Homo sapiens: one gene and its partner. Changing the gene in region 1 together with any one later gene gives a genetic interaction. Each region holds a gene or a part of one and is shown on either strand. Other genes may lie near its edges. The genes, in order: SIVA1 and FOXP3.

Evidence for each region.
Region 2: of SIVA1 (region 1) and FOXP3, changing one enhances a phenotype caused by changing the other (phenotypic enhancement), as found in Homo sapiens cells (one study listed by BioGRID).

Annotation. Positions count from the first base shown.
Region 1 is NC_000014.9:104,747,968-104,759,766, forward strand, and holds SIVA1 (apoptosis regulatory protein Siva), read left to right. Parts: upstream 1-5,179; 5' UTR 5,180-5,234; coding exon 5,235-5,352; exon of another isoform or gene 5,353-6,504; intron 6,505-7,662; coding exon 7,663-7,857; intron 7,858-8,438; exon of another isoform or gene 8,439-8,636; coding exon 8,637-8,793; exon of another isoform or gene 8,794-9,453; intron 9,454-11,251; coding exon of another isoform or gene 11,252-11,282; exon of another isoform or gene 11,283-11,460; coding exon 11,461-11,518; 3' UTR 11,519-11,687; downstream 11,688-11,799. UniProt on the Homo sapiens protein: Induces CD27-mediated apoptosis. Inhibits BCL2L1 isoform Bcl-x(L) anti-apoptotic activity. Inhibits activation of NF-kappa-B and promotes T-cell receptor-mediated apoptosis.
Region 2 is NC_000023.11:49,252,341-49,263,493, forward strand, and holds part of FOXP3 (forkhead box protein P3), read right to left. Parts: intron 6,188-11,153; 5' UTR 6,166-6,187; coding exon 5,956-6,165; intron 5,429-5,955; coding exon 5,324-5,428; intron 5,226-5,323; coding exon 5,087-5,225; intron 4,673-5,086; coding exon 4,585-4,672; intron 4,516-4,584; coding exon 4,411-4,515; intron 3,463-4,410; coding exon 3,375-3,462; intron 3,170-3,374; coding exon 3,089-3,169; intron 1,728-3,088; coding exon 1,577-1,727; intron 863-1,576; coding exon 786-862; intron 1-785. UniProt on the Homo sapiens protein: Transcriptional regulator which is crucial for the development and inhibitory function of regulatory T-cells (Treg).

The DNA of each region.
Region 1 (11,799 bases):
CTGGTCTCGCTAGCCCAGGAAGTTCAGCAGGCTCTACTGACACGGCAGGGGCCTGGGGGCATAGGCTGGGTTATGAGATTCCTGTGACTCCAGGGATGCAAGCAACTTTTCTAGACAGTACCAAGAACAGCCCTCAGTGACTTGAGCGGCAGGAAAGCCATGCAACTGCACGGCTCTGCCCCAGGCCACGGGCGCTTCCTTCCTCAGGCCGGAGTCCCTCAGCAGCACTAGCCACCTTGAGATGGGGTGGGACACACAGGCAGAAGCCAGCCTTTGAGTATTCCCAGATGCTCTCCTTTCATAACACAGCAAGAGAGACAAAAAGGGAGCCCCGAGGCAGGGGTAAGCTCCTGGGGAGAGGGGGCTGCGGGCTTTCTCTACTCAGCCCTCACATCTACACTGGGCCCTCAAAGTCAAGTCATCTAAATTGAAATTTGAGAGCTGCAAAATAGGTTTTCAAACCTCTGTTTTGTAGTAGCTGCTAAATCTTCCACCAGAACACAAGTTGTCATCGTTTTCTTTCCTCTCGGGATGGAAGGCAGGCGTTTCACAGGGTAAAAAGACACCAACGCAGAGGGGAAATACTTCTCCCCCAGCACCAACTCACTCACTTCCACGTGAACCAGAGACAAGAGGCTCTGGCGTCTGAGCGGTGGGTTAGTGCAGACAGGCAGGTCAATCATTCGGGTCTCCACCCCCTTCTTCTCAGTAGCAGATGTTTGGAGGGTCTGAGTGGTTATAGTAAGGGGCTCTCTCCACTTTTCATCAATAACACAGCCCCAGTGTAGATGGGGTCAGAGTGGTCTCTGTTGAATACATGGGTAAAAGACAAATTAGTGATAATTGTAGTGAATTCTTATCATTTTATGACAATATTTATTCAGAATGGCATCCATTCTGAATAAAAGTGGGACTTTCTGGTACAGAAGCAGGGCTCAGTCATTCTTGACAGTTTCTAGCTCCTCACCTCCTCCCAGTTGCCCAGGGTGGTCCACCCAGATCTCTGCTTTATACACCTGCCAGCTGGTGACCAGCTCCCTATGGGACACCTGGATACAACCTACTGGACTCAGCCCCTGGCCCCCACACCCCTCACGGACTGTGCAGACGTGCCACAGTGACCACCACCCAGTCACAGCAAGATGCCATGAAGCTGATGCCTGCCGGCTCGAAATCACACCCCACAGGAAATGCACTTGAGTAACAACACCCTGGACCTGAATACAGATTTGGTGCACAGGCCGCTGGCTCGCTCCCCACCATCTGGCTGGGCCTGCCTGTTCCCCGTGGCTCCCCCTCCCCACTGGCCTGTGAGGAACGCTGCCTCCTCGCTCCCGCCCGGTTGAGTCACACACCTGCTCTGCAGTTTCATGTGTTCTGCTGTGCTGCCTCCTCCAGCTCTCACCTGACCCTTGCACCCAAACCTCACTCTCCTGGTCAGGACTCTCCCAGAGAGACCATCATGATAGGAATGAACTGATCACTGCTCAGACAAAAGCCACAGGCTGCCTGCCAAAGCCTAGAAGCAAGCTGCTGGTGAGAGGAATGCCAGCACAGCTGGATACACAGGCCTGAGGCCATCAGCCAGGGTCAGGAGGCATCCCACGAGAGCACACACTGTAACCCCATGCCCACCGCCCCCAGAGCCCCATCAGGGAAGGGCCAAAGTTTACAGCCACTCTCCAGGAGAGACCTCAAGACGAATTAGAGGAAAACTATGACAATGATTTTGTTTAATGATAATTTTCCTTTTTCCTAGCACTCTGGAAAGCTGCCAGTTTCTTTACAAGTTAACCATCAATCTGATGCAGGGCAGGTGAGCCCCAAAATTGGGGCTTAACCCTGGAGGGTTCATGGCTTCACCCAGGAAGGCATTCAAGGGTGAGCCAGTGGTGTTAGCCAGGCAAGTTTGTTAAAGCAGCAGAATCCTACCCAGCAACCTCTGAGGAACCGGCATGTGGCCTGGGGGACAGCCCCACTCCATAAGCTGCCCGATGTTCTGTATCTGTCCACGATGGTGATGAGACCCTAGGAGAGTTGCAAGTCTGAACACAGGGAAATCTTTAGAAATCCCCACGATCCATAAGATTGAAAACAATCCTCCTCTCTGAGAACTTCATCTATTTCTGGGATAAACCAAATCTGTGTTTAGTCACACGTGACTCCAACTGAGTAACTTTCAAGTCATTTCCCTAAGGCAGAAAAAATTCTCCATTATGCCAGCAAAGTGGCAAGGAAGAGCCAAGAATGCTTGATCCCATCCCCACCACAGGGAACCCTGCACGGCAGGAGGAGAAAGGACATCTAAGCTGGAGACTGGTAAGGTTTCAGCCACCCATGGCTAGGAAAGCATACACTGCCTCTGAGGGGGCGTGGGCAGCTGCAACACGGGAGTCACGTGGGAGGGGTTTGCGGGACTCCAGGCATCACCTCTTCACACCGGAGGCAACACCGATGGAGTCGTGAGAACATAGTCCAGGTGTGTCCAGAATTGGTGGGTTCTTGATCTCACTGACTTTAAGAATGAAGCACTAGGTCCTCACAGTTGACTGTTACAGTTCTTAAAATTGTTATGTCTGCAGTTTGTTCCTTCTGATGTTTGGACGTGTTTGGAGTTTGTTCCTTCTGGCAGACTCACGGTCTTGCTGGCTTCAGGAGTGGAGCTGCAGACCTTCACAAGGAGTGTTACAGCTCTTAAGGCAGTGTGTCTGGAGCTGTTCATTCCTCCCGGTGGGTTTGTGGCTTTGCTGGCCTCAGAAGTGAAGCTACACACCTTCCCAGTGAGTGTTACAGCTCATAAAAAGTGTGGACCCAAAGAGTGAAAGAGCAAAGCCCCAAACATGTGGCAGAACACCAACACGTTCCCACTGCCTGCTCGGGCGGCCTGCTTTTATTCCCTTATCTGGCCCCACCCATATCCTGCTGATTGGTCCATTTTACAGAGGGCTGGTCTGTTTTACAGAAAGCTGATTGGTCCGTCTTGACAGGGCGCTGATTGGTGTGTTTACAATCCCTGAGCTAGACACAGAAGTTCTCCAAGTCCCCACAGAGCACTGATTGGTGCATTTACAAACCTTGAGCTAGATACAGGGTGCTGATTGGTGTCTTTACAAACCTTGAGCTAGACACAGAGTGCTGATTGGTGTATTTACAGTCCCTTAGCTAGACATAAAGGTTCTCCAAGTCCCCACCAGATTAGCTAGATACAGAGTGCTGATTGGTACATTTACAAACCTTGAGCTAAACACAGAGTGCTGACTGGTGCGTCCACAATCCCACAGCTAGACATAAAGGTTCTCCAAATCCCCACCAGATTAGCTGGATACAGAGTGCCCATGGGTGCATCTACAAACCTTGAGCTAGACACAGGGTACCGATTGGTGAGTTTACAAACCTTGAGCTAAACACAGTGCTGATTGGTGTATTTACAATCCCTTAGCTTGACATAAAGGTTCTCCAAGTCGCCGCTAGACTCAGGAGCCCAGCTGGCTTCACCTAGTGGATCCCACACCGGGGCTGCAGGTGGAGCTGCCCGCCAGTCCCGCGCCGTGCGCCCGCACTCCTCAGCCCTTGGGCGGTCGATGGGACCGGGTGCCGCGGAGCAGGGGGCCGCGCAAGAGCCCACGGCAGGGGGGAGACTCAGGCATGGCGGGCTGCAGGTCCTGAGCCCTGCCTCGCGGGGAGGCAGCTGAGGCCCGGTGAGAATTCGAGCGCAGCGCCGGCGGGCCGGCACTGGTGGGGGACCCGGCGCATCCTCCGCAGCTGCTGGCCCGGGTGCTAAGCTCCTCACTGCCTGGGGCCGGTGGCTCCGATTGCGGGGCCCGCCGAGCCCACGCCCACCCGGAACTCACGCTGACCCGCAAGCGCCACGTGCAGCCCGGGTTCCCGCCCGCACCTCTCCCTCCACACCTCCCTGCAAGCTGAGGGAGCCGGCTCCGGCCGCGGCCAGCCCAGAGAGGGGCTCCCACAGTGCAGCGGCGGGCTGAAGGGCCCCTCGAGCGCGGCCAGAGTGGGCGCCGAGAGCGAGCGAGGGCTGCCAGCACGCTGTCATCTCTCACAGGGCGAAGCCCACGCCACAGGACGGGTCGGTTCTGTACCCGCCGGGGCAGGGGAGAGCCGCCTCTGGTGAGCAGAACCCCGGAGAAGGGACGACGCGGGTGCACCTCGCGGCATGGGGACACCAAGTCAGACGAACCCGCTGTGCAAGAACATTTTCCACACAGCGGCGCATACCCCCGCCCGGGGGCGCTCGGCAGCCGCACGCGGCCCTCAGAGCGCAGCCCCCACACGCCTTTACTTCTGGAAGGCGGAGACCGCCACAGTGAGGAGCTAAGCCAGCTGAGGCAACACAGAAAAACCCCCGTTCCTACCCAAAACCAAAAAGCGGGGCGCGGAGGCGCGCGCCTGCGGTCCCAGCTACCGGGGAGGCCGAGAAGGGAGGATCGCCTGAGCCCGGGAGGCGCAAGCTACAGTGAGCCGAGACTGCCACTGCACTCAGTCTGGGTGACAGAGCGAGACCCTGTCTCTAAAGGGGAAAAAAGAGCTAGGAAGAAGCGGGCTGCCTCTTAACTTCGGAGAAGTAAATGAGGAACTATAACCAGTGTCTACCGTTTAGGAACCAAACAAAAGCTGACAGGAATCCCGCCACCGACCCAGCCGCCCCAGACTTTGCCCTGGCCTATCCCGCGCCGCTCCTCAAACTAGACCCGCCCCGACGTCGCCCTGGCCTATCCCACGCCGATCCTCAAACGAGGCCCGCCCCCGATGCACAAGCTCCGCCCTCGTTGCACCGTCCTGACCCTCGGCCTCGCCCCCGCCCCCTGGCTCTTCCCGCGCAGCCGAATGCCGCGACCTGGCTCCCACCCTTCGTCGCTTCGCGCCGCATAGGAACCCCGCCCCTAGTCTCTCCTCCCGCCTATCCTGAGCGGCGCGCGCACAAATCTCTCCCACGGACCCGCCCACCCTGATCCTCAACCTGGCCCCTGGCCTTTCCCGCGGCGTCGAGTCCAGTACACCGACGCACGAGTCCCACCCCCGATCTCTCCCTCGGCCTATCCCGCGCCGCTCCGCGCAGGAGTCCCGCCTCCCACTTCGCCCGCAGCCTATGACGCGCCGCGTCGCTCCCTCTCCTCAAACCCGCTCTCGCCCGCGGATGGGCGCGCAGCTGTGACGTCACGGCGTCGTTGGTAAGGGGCTGGCGGCCGGGGAGCTGCGTAGCTCCCGGCCCCGCGGCCATGCCCAAGCGGAGCTGCCCCTTCGCGGACGTGGCCCCGCTACAGCTCAAGGTCCGCGTGAGCCAGAGGGAGTTGAGCCGCGGCGTGTGCGCCGAGCGCTACTCGCAGGAGGTCTTCGGTGAGTGTCGGGCGGGCTGCCGAGGGTCCGCTGCGTCGGGGCCTGGAACGGGCCGGGCCTCAGCGTCCCCTCTGAGGCCTGAGCGGGGGGCTGGAGGGCCCTGCTTTCTGGCCCCGCGTTCCCGGAAGCTGGGAGGCCGCGGGGACACAAGCTGGCCACGCCCAGGGCTGGGGTCAGTGAGGGGGATGTGAGGACCCCAGCGTTCGCCCACCCTGTCCAACAGCCTGAAAGAAAAGGGTCCCTGCCCCTAGCCCCCGCGCCCTCTTCCACGATCCCGGTTAGTCGCCGCCCTGCAGTGAGCGGCACCCGCCTGGTGCTTTCTCAGGACTGTCCCGTGCAGGATGTCCTGGGAGAGGTTGGGGAGCGGGGCGTCCTGCATGGAGTCAACCCGAAGAGTGCCCCTCCTGTCCCAAGAGGTATTCATGGAGCGCGCGGCCCTGCCAGGCACGGCGGCTTTCTCGGGAGACCAAAGGCAGGCAAGACAGATGTGCCCCGTCTCCCGGGAGCTCCCCAGCCTAGTTGGGGAGACCAGCAGGAGGAGTCGCCACAGGTGGTCGGGGCAGGCACAGGTTTGTGCAGGCGCACCTGCAGGGATGGCACGGAAGGCTTCTTGGAAGAACAGTCTGAGCGGAATCCTGTGGGGGCGAGTAGGAGTTAGCCAGGCAGAGGAAGGGAAGGAAGAGGGCGAGGCAGAAGCCAGGCAGCAGGAGAGCGAAATAGGACTCCGTGTGGCTGCAGTGTCCAGTTCTGGGTGGGATGTGAGGGCAGTGAGCTCCCAGGCCTTCTCTGGCTTTCTCCTGTGGATTTCAGGCGTGTTGATCTTATTGATCATCACTCTGACTGGGGTGATTAATACCCTGGGGCAGGTAAAAAGTGGAGCTTACCTTGCCTAGTGATTGGGACACAAAGTCTGCACCTGTAGAGCAGTTAGAGGATGACCCGGGGTGTGTGATTTACCTGGTGCCGCTTGTGCCTTGGGAATGAGGGAAAGACTCTGCCTCCCGAGGTTCCTCTGTGCGGTGTCTCCAGTGTGCTAGGGCTGTGAAAGCGAGTGCTATTCTGGGCCATGGGGAGGTAAGGGGAATGATGCCGTGGGAACTGTGGCAGGACCGCAATCGTGTGCCCTCTCAGGACAGTTGAAAAATTCAAACACTGTGCAGGCAAGAAGAGGAAGATGGAAATGGGGCCTGGCTCAGTATGGCCCTTTATTCTTCCCGAGTGTCCTGACCTGGGCGTTGGCAGGTGTGTGCCACTCACCGGGTCAGGTCAGGGAGGTCTGCTGGGTGCAGTGGGCCTTCCATGGTAAATGCAGGACACCTACTTTGAACTGTGTGACAGTTTCCAAATTCCAGGCCACAGCTGTTACCCTGATCTCTTAACCTCGAATTGTCCACAAGGCCTTGAGGACAAGGATTAGCCTCACCACGTGTCTGTCCCATTCCTTTCCCCTTATAGATGGGGGAAGGTGTGGGGGGCCAGGAGGAAGGTGCAGGGTGTTGTGGGCTGGCATCAGCTACTCCATGTGAGTTACCCTGTCACTATTATTGCTGCCCACTTCATGTAGAGCCACATAGAGTTTCTGGGATCTCTGCCTTTACTGTGTTATGGTGAGGTGCAAAACAAAAAACAAAGCATTTCTGGGTCTGGCCCTGGGCATCTGATTTTTCAAAGCTCCCCAGGTGACTGAACTGTGGCCTGATGGAAAACCACTGCTCCCAGGGATGGGTGGGTGTTCTAGAACAAGAGGTCTGGAAGGTTCTGGGATGCTTGTCTTGCCAGCAACTCTGTAGCAGGTGAAGGGGGTGTGCTCTGGCCAGAGGCTGTAGGCCCAGCTCCAAGCCTCTGGCTGCTTCCTTGGCAGGGGACGAGTTTTGTGAATTAGTGCTCCACAGTGCAGAGCTCCCTCTGTGCATTCCACAGAGCCTGGTTTCCAGGTGGGGAGTGCTGGGGAAGCAGAAAAGGGAGAAAGGGGACAAGCTTAGTGAGGCGAGGCCAGCCGTGAATTGCAGAAAATGAGCCGAGTGATAGGAGAGGGAACCCTTGCATCAGACACAGGTGGGGCTGCAGGGCCAGAGCCTTCCTGGAGGAGATGACAGCTAAGCCAGGTAAGGAAAGGACGCACAAGCATTCTCAGCATAGAGGCAGAGCAGGACCCAGCTCGCCAGGGCACAACACAGGCTGGGGTTACTGGGAGACAGAGGGCACACAGGAGGACGATGGGGTTCATGTGAGGCTAGAAAGACTCAATGGCCATGCAGGGGCTTCGTTGGTACACAGTGAAGGACGTGAGAATGATTTATCTTCCCCCAGAGAAGACCAAGCGACTCCTGTTCCTCGGGGCCCAGGCCTACCTGGACCACGTGTGGGATGAAGGCTGTGCCGTCGTTCACCTGCCAGAGTCCCCAAAGCCTGGCCCTACAGGGGCCCCGAGGGCTGCACGTGGGCAGATGCTGATTGGACCAGACGGCCGCCTGATCAGGAGCCTTGGGCAGGCCTCCGAAGCTGGTGAGTGGCACCAGCAGCCCTTTGTGGCTGTGGCACTGAGGGCAGGTGGTGGCACGAGCATTTTTCTTGATTTGCAAGGTCAGGCTTTTCCTCCCTGGGTAAGCAGGACTCTGACCCAGAGCTTGGCCTTCTGGCTCAGAAGGCTCCTGTTATCAGGAGGTCTCACATTCAAGACTGGAAGTTGTTAAACAGCTTCTAAGTACTGGGCCAAAAAAGCAGCAGAGACTCCCCGGGTATCCCGTCTGCTTTCCGCCTGCAGCCCCCTCAGATAGTCCCACAAGGCTGGAAACATGCCAGTCCCATCCCTATGCAGTGTGGGGTCTCAGAGCATCACCTGTGTTGCTGGTTAGAAATGCAATCCCCGACTCTACCTCAAGTCTGGTTGGTGTGTCTAGGAGGAGCCCAGGCACCTCTTTGTTAACCAGTAAGGCAGTGGGCCACACTGAGACCCAGATGGGACACATGGAGTTCTGACAAGCAACAGGGGAAGAATGGTCCTTCCAGCACTAGCCTCCAGGTAGCAGAGGGACCTGGTAAGGGAAAGAGCACTGAACTTGGAGTCAACTACAGGCATATCTCACCTTGGATCTCTGTAGTAAAACGGGGGTCCTGTGCACTGTACCAGGCTCACGGGTTGTCAGAAGGATCCAGTGTAGGTGGGGATGGGGTAGGCAGGTCAGAGCCCTCTGCCCTCAGGTATGCATGGAGGCAGGTAGCCCGGCAGTCCCGGAAACTCCAGTCTCCTTGCAGCCTGACGGCTTGGCGTTTCTTCCTCACAGACCCATCTGGGGTAGCGTCCATTGCCTGTTCCTCATGCGTGCGAGCCGTGGATGGGAAGGCGGTCTGCGGTCAGTGTGAGCGAGCCCTGTGCGGGCAGTGTGTGCGCACCTGCTGGGGCTGCGGCTCCGTGGCCTGTACCCTGTGTGGCCTCGTGGAGTAAGTACTTCAGTCCCTGGAGCTGCTGAGATCCCATAGCCCCAGCAAGCCGTGATGGGGGACGGGTGGGTCACCCATGTGGGCCCAGAACACACACGTGTGGCCCCTGATGCAGTGCCATCTGGCATTGCCTAACGGGACATGGTGGCAATAGATGCTTGGCCCAACTTTAGTGGTTAGTAATCCTCTCTAAGGGAAAGCTGAACCTCACAGATGACCTGCTCTGTATCCGGCTCTAGTCCCTGTCTTCAGCCACTTCCTGTTCTGATCTTTGAGCACCCCCACCTCCTCCTCCTCTGGTCTTTGAGCCCCCCCTCCCCCCGTCCGAGGAGCCCCTGGTTGGTGACACAGGTGCACACCGCAGCTTCACCACAGTCATGCGTGCCGTTTGGTTGTAGACCCTCTCAGGCAGGAAGTGGAGTGTTTGTGTAGTCTCCCATTTGTGGGTGGGTTTGCTGCAGCTGGCTGGATCCCGTCCTTACTCCTAAGGTGGGGAGGGGCGTTCTCACCCTAGGGGCTACTCACCTGGTGGATGGGAGTGGACAGTGTGGAGCCTGTTTGCCCTGCCCCGTGAGAAAGATGACTTCATCCAGACACATGTGGAACTGGCTCCATAGACCCAAAGCAAGCTTAGTCCAAACAATGTCTGAAATTGTCCATCTAAAATAGAAACCACATGTTACATCTCGAGTCCTTTCTCTCGAGCCTTTCTTCAGTCGGGGCAGAGGCCCAGACTCATTGGAGACGGAGAGCCCTGGGCAGGGGGGGCAGCACCAGGGAGAAGCGCCGCGTGCCAGTGATCGGCTCCCATGGCTTCAGCATGGGCAGGAGTGGGGTAACGCACCCCATCCAGGTTGGGAATCATCTGCAGGGCTAGCTATGAATGTGGGATACTCTGTCTTTGCTTTTCACCCGCTGAGTTCATCTTCTTTCCTAGAAGTAAACTGAAAAGGGCAGGGTTTTCTCATTGTCTGGTGGCCCTCTCACCAAAGCAGAAGTGAACATAGCCATGGGCAGGTTCAGCGGAGAGGTGGGTCCCAGAGCGCTGCGTGGCTGGCCTCCCACTCCTGCCCTGCACACCATCCTTGAGGGACTCCCTTGCGCCCATTTCCTCCTGGCCTCTACCTACTTTCTGCTGCTGCTTCCTCCCATACCCACAGAGTTCACGTTGAGCTGAGTGGGCCACTGTCCCCACTGTGGACACACTCTTTTATCGCAGCTACAGCACAGGAGGTGGGCTCTGCCCTCTTTCACAAATAAATGACTTGTTCCAGGTCACAAGCCAGAAGTGGCATTCCCAGGCCAGGCAGCCCAGCTGGTGGCACCCGCAGTCTCCTACCCCCTCCCCTGCCATTTCCTACTTCAGGACCAGGCGTCGCAGGAGTGGGGGAAAACAGGGATCTGTCCACACGGCTCTGGTTTAACACAGATGCAGCCCAGCAGCCTTTGGCGTCCTGCTGATGGCCTGCACTGGCCCACGCCTGGCCCGTCCTCTGCAGGGCTCTCCAGCTGGCTGCCGGTGGCGGTGAGGGGCTGTCTTCGCGGCTCACCCACAATACTACTGGCAAACTCTGCAAACCAAGTGGCAAGCAGTTCTGGCTGCCTTGTTGACTCCACGGCCCTGTCGTGTTTGGGGTAGCCATTGCCAGTCCCGTTTCCTCGCAACATCTCTCTTAATCACTTTCTCCCTGTGTTTTGCCGGGTTCCCTAGCCTTTACCTTTAGAGCTTTCTTTTTTTTTTTTTTTTGAGACGGAGTCTCGCTCTGTCACCCAGGCTGGAGTGCAGTGGTGCGATCTTGGCTCACTGCAACTTCCACCTCCTGTGTTCAAGCAATTTTCCTGTCTCAGCCTCCCAAGTAGCTGGAGTTACAGGCGTGCGCTAGCACGCCCAGCTAATTTTTGTATTCTTAGTAGAGACAGAGTTTCACCATGTTGGCCAGGCTGGTCTCGAACTCCTGACCTCAGGTGATCCTCCGGCCTCAGCCTCCCAAAGTGCTGAGGTAAGCCACACCATACGCGTGAGCCACCATGCCCGGCCCTACCCTTAGTCTTGATATATCAGAAAAGCACTGTTTGATGTGCTTCAGTGTAAACCATTGTGGTTCGGTGAATTCTGGCAGGTCATCTGGAGGTTTCTTTGGAGAGCTTCTATCCTACTGGAAACCCAGGTTGGGCCCCATGTGGATTGATCGGCAGTGGGAATCAGCTAGGGCTGCTGTAACTGAGTTCGCAGACCCAGTGGCATAGACAGCAAAGAGGTACTGCCACGTGGCTTTGGAGACCAGAAGTCTGAGAGGAAGGTGCTGGCAGGGCTGGTTCCTTCTGAGGCTGCAATGGAAAACCTGTCCTGGCCTCTCTCCTGGCATCTGCTGGTTATCTTTGGTGTTCCCTGTAGACAGCTGCCCCCTCCCTGTATCTTCATGTCGTCTTCCTTCTCTGTGTCCTTCTCTTCACGTAGTCTTTTTAGGACGCTGGTCGTGTTGCCTTAGGGCCCCCATGTCAGTGCCGTCATCTAGACTGATGATGCCCGCAGTGATCCTGTCTCCAGATAAGGTCATGTCCTGAGGTGTTCTGGGTTAGGACTTTGACGTTTGAATGGTGGGGGGTGGTGGACACAATTCAGCCCCTGACAGCAGCTTTTCTCTCCCCTCCCTGACGCTGTCGCAGCTGCAGTGACATGTACGAGAAAGTGCTGTGCACCAGCTGTGCCATGTTCGAGACCTGAGGCTGGCTCAAGCCGGCTGCCTTCACCGGGAGCCACGCCGTGCATGGCAGCCTTCCCTGGACGAGCGCTCGGTGTTCACACTGAACTGTGGGGTCGACGGGAGGGGTGCCTTTTACATGTTCTATTTTGTATCCTAATGACAGAATGAATAAACCTCTTTATATTTGCACAAGAGGACTCTTGTCTGTCAGCACTTCTGAGGGTGGAGTTTGTGACCCTCCACCTGGGAGGGCCAAAGGAGCAGTCAGTGGGCGGGGCCTGCTGCACCTGCTGTCTACCCG
Region 2 (11,153 bases), on another chromosome or scaffold:
GGCAAGGATGAGGTTAGTTGTGGGGTTCGGTGTGGAGTGAGGCTGAGGGTCAGGGAATTTGATCAGTTTGGATTCAGGAATGGGATTACAGAGTCAGCGATGATGATTGCAGTGAGGCTATCAGTCAGGATGGGGCTAGGTCAGGGTTTCAGTTCAGAGACAGTCGGGGAATATCTGGTATCATGTAGGGGTGAGGTTCAGGTTTGGGGTTAGGTGTGGCGCTAGGATGAAGGTTCTGAGAAGGCATTGGGGAGGCTGAGATGAAGGAGTTGGGATGGGGTGATGAAGTTAAGGATCAAATGGGTGTTACAAGGAAAGGTTGGGAATGGTGCCCAGTTGGGGGTGTATTGACATACTGGGGTACGTTGGGGCCAGGGAAGGAGATGGGGTTGGGTTGGCATAAAGGCTGGGGAAGGAGTTAGAGTAAGAGCTGGGGTACGTTTAGGGCAAGGTGCAGAGATGGGGTTAGCTTTAGGCTATTTTATGGGTCCAGGAGAGGGTTAGGTATGGGGCTGAGGTGGACATCTGGAAAGGGGTAGGTTTAGGGTCAGAATTTGGCATGCTCTGGCCTGGATGGTGGTTTAGGTTTGGATTTGCGGACAGGTTTGGGGTGAAGCCAGCATGAGGGGTCACATTTGAGGCACGGCTTGGGGATCCTTGGGGCTGGGGCTTGGGAATGGAGGAACCCACTCTGAGGGCACTCAGAGGGAGACAGGAGTTTGGGAGGCAGGTCCCCCACCCCATCTTTGTCTTCCTCCTCCTTGGGGCCGAGCTGCCCTGCTTACCCAGCGGATGAGCGTGGCGTAGGTGAAAGGGGGTCGCATGTTGTGGAACTTGAAGTAGTCCATGTTGTGGAGGAACTCTGTCAGAGGGTGGGGATGAATCAAGCCCCATGCAGGACCTCCTAGCTAGCTCCCTGTCCCCTCCCCCTACAAGGTGAGTCTACAGGCCTGAGATCTCACCGTCAACACCCGTGTCCACGGGCACAGGTACTGTTTGCTGAGCACCTGACATAAGTTGTATCATTTATTCTTTGCACCACTTCTGCCAAAATAGTTCTCCCCGAGGTTGAAAAGAAGCGGAGTAACTTGCACACCAAAGGATGCAAGAGGTTAAATGGCAGAGCCAGGATGACAGTCAAGGTCTCTGATCCCTGCTAAGCCCACAGGCCAGGCCTGGTGGAGAGCAGTGGATAGGTGAGCTCGGGCGAATCCACCCCGATTTTCCTTGGTCAGGGGAGGAAAGGAGGTGCTCCTGGAATTACTTAGCAGGGTCCCTCCCTTCTGATGGCCGAATATAGTAGCTGGAGTCCAGAGTGGGTGAGGCATGGCCCCAATCCCCAAGGGAGTCAGGGCTAGGGGCCCGACACTCGAGACCATATGGGGGGCTTTCAGGCCACGGACATCCCGAAAGGAAGCTTTTGTGAGCGGATGCATTTTCCCAAAGGCTGAGTGGCGGCAGCTGCAGTGGTGGTGGTGGTGGGAAGGGGCAGCATGGAGCTCCTTTGCACCCTCCACCCAGAGCCTGTCAGGATTAGGAGCTTGGGGGCACCGTGTAGTGCAAGGACCATTCTTACCTGGGAATGTGCTGTTTCCATGGCTACCCCACAGGTGCCTCCGGACAGCAAACAGGCTGTCAGGGGCCTCCCGGGGGCCAGACCAGGCTGGGACGACAGGGCCTTGGCTGCCAGCAGCTACGATGCAGCAGGAGCCCTTGTCGGATGATGCCTGGGTGAGGGGGAGAGGCTGGTGACCCAGAGGCTTAAACTTCCCACTTTTTACTTTCTATTTTATGTTTTTTATTTTTTTTGATACTGAGTCTTGCTCTGTCGCCCAGGCTGGAGTGCAGTGGTGCAATCTCGGCTCACTGCAACCCCCACCTCCCAGATTCAAGCAAGTCTTCTGCCTCAGCCTCCCGAGTAGCTGGGACTACAGGTGCCCGTCACTACGCCCAGCTAATTTTTGTATTTTTGGTAGAGATGGGGTTTCACCATGTTAGCCAGGCTGGTCTCGAACTCCTGACCTCATGTGATCCACCCGCTTCAGCCTCCCAAAGTGCTGGGATTACAGGCATGAGCCACTGCGCCTGGCTCCACTTTATTTTTAAATCAGTGTTTTTCAAAGCAAGGACGCCCTCTTCTAAATTCCAGTCTGAGGTGGAATCCCACAAAACAGCATGAGCCGTATTTATTAGAGCACAGGTGCGGATGTCGTATGTGGCCACTGATGCTGGGACCATGAACTGGGGTTGAATAGGGCTCTTTACCACCCAACTGTGACCTTGGGAAAGTCACCTAAACCCCCCTGGCCTCAATATTCCTCATCTGTACATTCGCATCATGAGAAATAAATTACCACCAGCAAAGCGCTCAGAAACAGTGCCTGGCCTCCAGGGCTGGCTTCATGGGCGTGTGACCTATGTGGTTATGTGGCACCCTGTGCTTTGTTTAATGCTCTGTGGTCGCCATCTTGAAATCTGAACAAGGGGCCCTGCAGGTTACATAGCTGGTCCTGCTGGCACACAGCCTGCATCTGGCAAGTCTGGCTATTTGCATTTGCTTTAACAACTCAGGATCACAGTGTTTGGGGATCTTAGAGTCAGAGGGTTTTTTTTTTTTTTTTTTCTTGAGACGGAGTCTTGATCTGTCGCCTAGGCTGGAGTGCAGTGGTATGATCTCAGCTCACTGCAAACTCCGCCTCCCAGGTTCAAGCAATTCTCTGCCTCAGCCTCCCAAGTAGTTGGGACTACAGACACCTGCCACCACGCCTGGCTAATTTTTTGTACTTTTAGTAGACACAGGGTTTCACCATCTTGGCGAGGCTGGTCTTGAACTCCTGACCTCGTGATCCACCCGCCTCGGCCTCCCAAAGTGCTGGGATTACAGGCGTGAGCCACCACGCCCAGCCGGGGTCAGAGGGTTTGTAAGTAGAAGGGGACAGATTTCCAGGTCTGGGCATGTTTGGAGCTGGGGACAGGGGCCCCTAGCTCTCAGGACCTGAATGTGAGGTTAGGTTCCCTGCACCGTGCAGACCTCCTCCCTGCCCCCCAGCAGTCTGAGTCTGCCACCACCAGTCCTGGGGTCGCTCACCACAGATGAAGCCTTGGTCAGTGCCATTTTCCCAGCCAGGTGGGCCTGCATGGCACTCAGCTTCTCCTTCTCCAGCACCAGCTGTGAAATGGCACAAACATGAGGCCTCAGCCTGGCCCTTCTCTGCCACATCTTTGCCCAGGCTACGGTCTTCCCTGGGAGTGCCCGCTCCTCTTCCTTCCTTTATACCAGCCCTCGTCCCAGGTGAACTTGGTTTCTGGCACATGGTGGACAGAAGGTTTTGCGCACTATCCCTATCCCTTACCCTCCACCGCCCTGGCATTACCTGCTGCTCCAGAGACTGTACCATCTCTCTCTGGAGGAGACATTGTGCCCTGCCCTTCTCATCCAGAAGATGGTCCGCCTGGCAGTGCCTAAGTAGGGAGAAGATTCCATGCAGGTGACCACGACAGGCCTGGTCTGGCTCAATGCTCTGAATGGGGAGGGCCCAGACCCTCTGGGAGTTCTCTCCTCTGAGCCCCAGCTCCCCTCCCCTCTCTACCTCAGTCTCCCTCTCACACCCCTCGTTCCCTTAACACATGCCCCTCAGCACCTACTGCATGTCAGGCCTGAACTCACCACTTGAGCCTGGCCAGAGTGCTGGAGATAATGTTGGAAGTGTGGTGAGTTGAGAATGGGCCAGGGAGGTGAGAGTGGGCAAAGCATTCTGGGTGGAGGGACGGCCTGTGCAAAGGCCTGGCTGCAAGGAGGACAGGACATGTGGGGTTGCTGCTAAGGGTTGTGTGTAGTGTGGTGTGTATTTGTGTGTGTGTGTGTGTGAGAGAGAGAGAAAGAGAGAGAGAGAGAGAGAGAGAGAGAGAGAGAGAGAGAGAGAGAGAGAGAGAGACATATGGGGGGACTGAGGGGAGGCAGCAGCAGCCATCTAGAGGAGCTAGAACTTTGGGAACAGTGGAATAAGGCTGGCATGTTGGCATGAGGAGTAGCAGGGCAAAGCAGGAGTGCAGATTCTAGAGCCTGGCTACATGGGTTCAAATCCCAGCTCTGTCACTCAGGAACTGGGAGATTTTGATCAAGACACTTAACCTCTTTGGCCTCAGTCTCCTTGTCTGTAAAATGGGGGTAAATAACAGCACAAACGTTTCTTATTATACATACGAGAAAACTGAGGTCGAGAGAAGCTAAGTAATTTGTCCAAGGTCACACAGCCAGTCAGGGATGGAGCTGGGATTTGAACCCACAGTCTCAGAGTTTAGCTCTTGCATCTTACTACTTATTGGGATGAAGCCTGAGCTGAGATCTGCACCCTAGACCTCTCCCCACAAGCCAGGGCCGGTAGACTGGCACAGGCCTGGGCCACTCACTTGAGGAAGTCCTCTGGCTCTTCGAAGACCTTCTCACATCCGGGCCACTTGCAGACACCATTTGCCAGCAGTGGGTAGGAGCTCTGGGGCACAGCCGAAAGGGTGCTGGGGGGACAGAGGGTGTCAGGGGAGGGGATAGGAGGGCGAGGATCCTTCCCAGCCCTGTCCACTGACCTGTCCTTCCTGGGTGCACTGGGATTTGGGAAGGTGCAGAGCAGTGCCGGCTCCCTGGACACCCATTCCAGGCTGGCCACGTTGATCCCTGTGGGTGGGGACAGGGCACCTATGGAGGCTGTGGGCTGGGCTCTGGAGCTTGGCCCACAAGGCCTCTCATTTTGAGCTTCCCACCCTCCTGAGCCTCGAAAACCCTGACTCCCAGGGGGCTCTGCTGTCCCCAAAGTCCCAGGCTTCTGGCAGAGAAGCTTAAAGACGGCCATTCGCAGGTGCTGACATTTTGACTAGCTTTGTAAAGCTCTGTGGTTTTGTGATTTTGACATTCTGCATCTTTAAGGTTCTGCACCTGACGTTTTTTGGAGGGTGGAGTTTCCAAGCCTCTGAGACCTGACACCTTTGACCCCCAGAGTACTGCAATTCAGAATAGCCTACACTGCTCACAGCCAAGGATCTGGGGACTTGGGGGTTCTGTGAAGCCATGGGGTACGGGCTGAGGTGTTACCAGGTGGGAGGCCAGGCCGGGCCTTGAGGGAGAAGACCCCAGTGGCGGTGGTGGGTGGTGTGAGGCTGATCATGGCTGGGCTCTCCAGGGGGTGCACCTGCAGCACAGGGGTCCGGGCGTGGGCATCCACCGTTGAGAGCTGGGGGGCACATGTGGGCTGTGGTTCAGCCTGACTCGGGGCCCCTCCCCACAGTTCTCCCACCTGCTCCCTCCTCCCTGCCCATTCACCGTCCATACCTGGTGCATGAAATGTGGCCTGTCCTGGAGGAGTGCCTGTAAGTGGGGCAAGGGGCCCAGCCGTGCCCCGGAGGGTGCCACCATGACTAGGGGCAGTGTGGGCAGCTGGGCAGAAAGGCAGGTGGGTGAGAGGCCATCCTGATCCTCACTGTTCTGTGTCTAATTCAAATACTCTGCACTGCAAGCCCACATGGTAGATGCTATGATCATCCCCCTTTTACACGTATGGAAACTGAGGCTCATGGAGATCGAGTAACTTTTTAAAGATCAAACAGCTAATAAGTTGCAGAGCTGGCCTCAGCCCTGTCACCTCACCTACTTGGCCCCAGTCCTCTTCTCTTGTCACATGGGGATGGGGACACATAGCTATGCTCATGGGACTACAATACGGCCTCCTCCTCTCCTGAGACAGGGATTGGGAGGTCGGGGAGAGCCTCCAATCTCTGAGGCCTGGCAGGTGGGGATTTTCTTGGCCCTGCAACATCTGCATAAGTCACAGACTTGCCTGGGACCCAGAAACCACTTCCTGTGCCCCAGCCAGCCCCCCTCCCGCCCAGTGCCACAGTAAAGGTCGGCACCTGTAGGTCCAGGTACCCCACCCTGCCTGCCCCATCCTGGGCCCAGGGCCTCACCTGCAGCTGCGATGGTGGCATGGGGTTCAAGGAAGAAGAGGAGGCATGGGCCCCGCCTCGAAGATCTCGGCCCTGGAAGGTTCCCCCTGGGCCCCGGGCCCCCAGCAGGTCTGAGGCTTTGGGTGCAGCCCTCCAGCTGGGCGAGGCTCCTGGGGATGGGCCAAGGGCCAAGGAAGGGGCCGAGGGCTTGCCAGGCCTGGGGTTGGGCATCGGGTCCTTGTCCAAGGGCAGGCTGCGTAGACAATAGGGGAAAGGAGTCACACGTGTGCTAGGGCGGTATGAGATACTCGACCACCTGAGCCACGTGGACACTCCTCTGGTCAAAGCAGGCATTGGCTGGGACATGTCCCGAGGGGCCCCATAGTTGCACCCCAGCTCTAGACACACACACACACACACACACACACACACACCAAGAACACAGGTACATGTACATACCCACACATGCCCCACGTGCAGAGGTCCAGCACCTGGCTTGCCTGCCCACGCTAGCACAGCCCTGGTGTGGATGTGTCCTCTATGAGGGCAATGGTTGTTTCCCCCTCCACTTGAGAGCTGTTTCAAGCCTCAGGCCTCTAGCCCTCCCTGCACCCTGCACAGGCTGTGTTTGCTCATCTTGCCGGAGCTGGTCTCGGACTTTCTCCTCGGAGTCCTATTTTGCCCCAGTGACTAGGCATGGACTCAAAAGATTCATCTGGCTGCTGTGAGTGGGGCTAGTGAGGAGGCTATTGTAACAGTCCTGGCAAGTGATGATGCTGGCACAGAATGGGCTGGTGGCAGTGGAGAAGGCGAGAAGTGGGTAGATTCTGAGACTTAATCTGAAGCTGGATCAGGAGCAGTGCTAGCAGCTTGGATGTAGTGGGCAAGAGGGAGAGTCAAAGTGACATGGGTTTTAGCTTGAGCAGCTGGAAGGACCGAGCTGACATTACCTGAGATGGGGGACATGGCGGGGAGTTGGATTGGGTGCAAAAGTGCAGGTGTAGATAGACATGAAGAGTCTGGCATTAAATATGTGAGTGGAGGAGCTGAGGGGGCAGCTGAATACGGGGGTCTGGATCTCAGGGCAAGGAGGCGAGTCCAGGAGTGTGATCATGCACGGATCCAGCATGGCAAGTGACAGAGAGGAGGAGAGATGGGGTCTCTTGAGCTGGGGCCTGTAGAAGCTTCTCTACCCAGCCCCCATCAGAGTTCACCCCAATTTCTGGCCCTCAAGCCTGGCTCATGCTACACCCCCTGCCTCAAATGCCCACTCCTTCTCCTCTTTCCCTGTCCAAGCCACGCAAGACCTGCTCTTCTATTGTCCTCACCTTGAAAGCCCTCCACAATGGCTCCGGGCCCCCTGCTGAGCCCCAGAACCTTCCACTCCCTGAGGGAAGCACTGGCTTTTCAGGATCCTATAATCCTGGTCTGAGAGGAAGCCAGAGCTGGAAGGGACTGCCCAGCCAACCCCATTATACAGAAGGGGATGCTCAGATGCCGAGTTCCGTAGTCCCATAGTGACTTGAGAACTCCACTTCTTTCTTTAGGAAGTGTTTCCGTGTGCACATTTTATAAACTCTCTGGTGTGTGTGTGTGTGTGTCTCCATCTCCCCGTTCCACCTCACAGCACTGAGTTGGGCACACAGCTGCTGAGAGCAGCCCGGGGGAGTATAGAAGGGTTCTGGGGGAGCAGTTGCTCCTTCCTTTCTTTGCTGTCACCTCCTGGGGGTGGTTGTCAGAGCTGTGGTGCTGAGGGAGATGAGTGTGAGAATCCAGGTATTAAGTTCTTAGTCTCCTGGGGGCTTAGAACATTACTGCGTGAGAAACAGGAGTGTGGGTCTGTGGAGGCTCCGAACAAGGGCCTGGGAGAGCACTGGTGAGATGAGAAGGTGAGTGAATGAATGAAGCCAGAGATGGGGTGATGCTCCTTCAAGCCAAGAAATAACAAAGATTGCCAGCAACCACCAGAAGCTGGGGGAGAGGCCTGGAGCAGCTTCTCCCTTATGGCCCCCAGAAGGAACCAACCCTGGCAACACCTTGATCTTGGACTCTGGCCTCCAGAACTGTGAGATGATCAATTTCTGTTGCTGAAGCCACTCAGTTGTGGTACTTTGTTATAGCAGCCAGAACAAACTAATACCGATTTCGGTGCAAATGGATGTTTTCCACCACTCTGGCCTGGCCCATGTGGCTGGCCTGTGGTCACTTCTGAAGCTGCCTGGACACTTGGCCAGAGCTAAGAATTCTCCCCAAACACATGTGGGATGGCCTGACTCAGCAAAGCATAGATACATTCTCAGACAGGGACATGGAGATGATCTGTCTGGGGGTAGAGGACCTAGAGGGCCGGGCTGGGCAGCCGGCTTCCTGCACTGTCTGTTGGGACGTCCCTTTCTGACTGGGTTTCTCAGAAGCTGAATGGGGGATGTTTCTGGGACACAGATTATGTTTTCATATCGGGGTCTGCATCTGGGCCCTGTTGTCACAGCCCCCGACTTGCCCAGATTTTTCCGCCATTGACGTCATGGCGGCCGGATGCGCCGGGCTTCATCGACACCACGGAGGAAGAGAAGAGGGCAGATACCCCACCCCACAGGTTTCGTTCCGAGAACTGGCTGCCCTGTCCTGCAGCAGGCTTGGCCCAGGTGGGGTGACATGGGTGCTGGTGGATGTGGTAGGTGATGTCCATCTGGCCACTATGACAAGCCCCTAGCTCTGAAGACCTGGCCCTTCTTGGGTTGTGGAGAGGACCCAGGTTTGAAGCTCTGAGAGTGCCAGGCAGGCTCCACAGATACTGGGACCCCTGGGGTCTTCAAATAGTATAACACCAGGACCTCAGAATCATAGAACAGCATTTCTTAGATTTAAAGGATCCTAGAATCTCAAAACCACAGACTGTGGGGTCTACGGTCCCAAAGTCTCAGTATGTGTAGGCCAGTGTCCCTGGTGTCCAAACTCCTTGGAACCATCTGAAAGTCAGGCAGCTTGCTGCTTCATAGGGCCTCTTGCCTACCAGGCCTGGAAACAGAGCCAGCCTCCCTAGGGCCTCAGTCTCCCTGTCCACTCTGGAACAACGTTCCCAAATACATGGCCACTCCGCCAGAGATGGCAACAGGGGGAGGAGGAGGTTGAGGCTGGTGTGCCTTTGGTCTGGGCCTCATGGGGGGAGCTGGAAAAGCCTCAGCCTTCGCCAATACAGAGCCCATCATCAGACTCTCTAGAGGGGCCCCACAATCAAGGTTTTCGGGGACCAGCACCAGCTCTGGGGACACACAGCCTGACTGACTGACATGCCTCCATCATCACCACGCTCTGGCCAACTAGGCCTCCTGACCTATGGAGTCCGGGGCCTCACCTAGCCCAGCTCTTGTGAGGCTGGGCCCCACACTGTGATCGTGGATCGTCCAACCTGTGGGAAGTTGGGGTCCAACGTGTGAGAAGGCAGAAGGGGGAATGGTAGCCCAGGTTCCCCTTCCCCCTTCTGGGTGCTGAGGGGTAAACTGAGGCCTGCAGTTGGGGAGAGAGCCAGAACCAGGGTCCCACCTAGAGTCCTGAGATCTAGGCTTGGATTTCAACTCTGCCGCTGCATTTCGGTGAGGCCCTGAGATCTCTGGTCTTCAATTTGCCCTTCTACACTGAGCACGGAGAGGCGTGGAGTAGACAAGGGCCAGGGCCCTTCTACGCTGTCTGGTTAAGTCATTAGGTGTCTGCAGGGCTTCAAGTTGACAATTGCCCCTCTATCCAGGGGACTGGCTGAGAGATAGGGATACATAGAGACAAAGAGACACACACAAAGAGCGAGCAAGAGAGAACAAGAGATAGTGAGAGACATTGAGAGAAATGGACACATGCATGGAGAGCCAGAGTGCATGTGTGCGAGAGGAGGATTGCCTCAAATAAGAACATTTGCTGGTCTCTGGCTGGTTCAACTGATGCTGCCTGAAATAATCAAGAATAAAGAAGGGCAAGGTGCCAGGGACACCCATGGCTGGGTATTGAATTGTATTGCAAAGCAACAATCAGCAAAACAGTGTGGCCCTGGTATAAGAACAGATACTGGGGAAGAGAACAGAATAGAAAGCTTGGACATGGACCCACATATGGAGAGAACTGAATTTGTGATGAATGTGGCATTTCAAACTGGAGGACCATGGAGTATGGTTTAACAAATGTGTCTGAGATAATTAGGGAGAAGATAAAGTTATTGAGTGAATAGTCAGTCCATTATCCCAACAACCCCTCCCTGCCCAGTTTGAAATGTCACCATCATCATATACCCTAAAATGCCCAGATCCATTCAAGATATAAGTTTTAACACCTAATGCTGATCTTGGGTTTATTGTGTGTCAGGCCTTGTGCTAAGTATTTACTGTGGTTAAAAATTTTAATCTAAACAAAGACTCCTGAGGAAGGTACTATTATAACCATTGCAGTACATATGAGGAAATGGAGGTATGGAGAGGTTAAGTGCCTGGCTAAAAATCACACATAGGGCTTGGGGTGACGCTGGGTTTGTCCCAGACAGTCTGGCTCCAGTACCCACACTCTTAACCTCTATAGTAAATGGAAAAAATGAAGCCATAAAAGAGACTAGAAGCCAACATAGGTGAACATTTATCTCATTTTCAAGTAGGAAAGGACTTTCTAAGCACAAAACCAGAGACAGAAGCCACAGAAAAAAAGACTAACCTATTTGACTGTATAAAACCATCATAAGCATCACAAAAAACACCATAAACAAATAGAAAAAAAGCAAATGATGAATTGGGGAAAATATTTGCTATATATGTAATGGCTGATGAAAGGTTAATAACCATTCCAAATAAAGAGCTGTGGCAAATCAATAAGGGAAAAATAAGATGAACACCCTATTAGGAGTAAGGACATGACCAGACAACCAAAAAAAAAAAAAAAAAAGCATGAATGGCCAATGAATAGTAAAAGTAATCACAAGATGCAAATTTCAACAATGTGATAATGTGTTTTTCTTACCTGTCATGTTGGGAAATAATTAAAACATAATAATACTCACCTAGGGTTAGCTTAAGTAGAGGGAGCATAAAATAGGACAACCTTTTGGAAGGAGAATTAGCAGAGAGGGTCATAAACTTTAAAAATGCACGCCCCCTTTGCCCCAGCAACTCCCTTTTCAGGAATCCAAGGAAGCAGTCAGGGATGTTTATAGAAAAAAACGAGAAACAACCGGAATGTCCAACAAT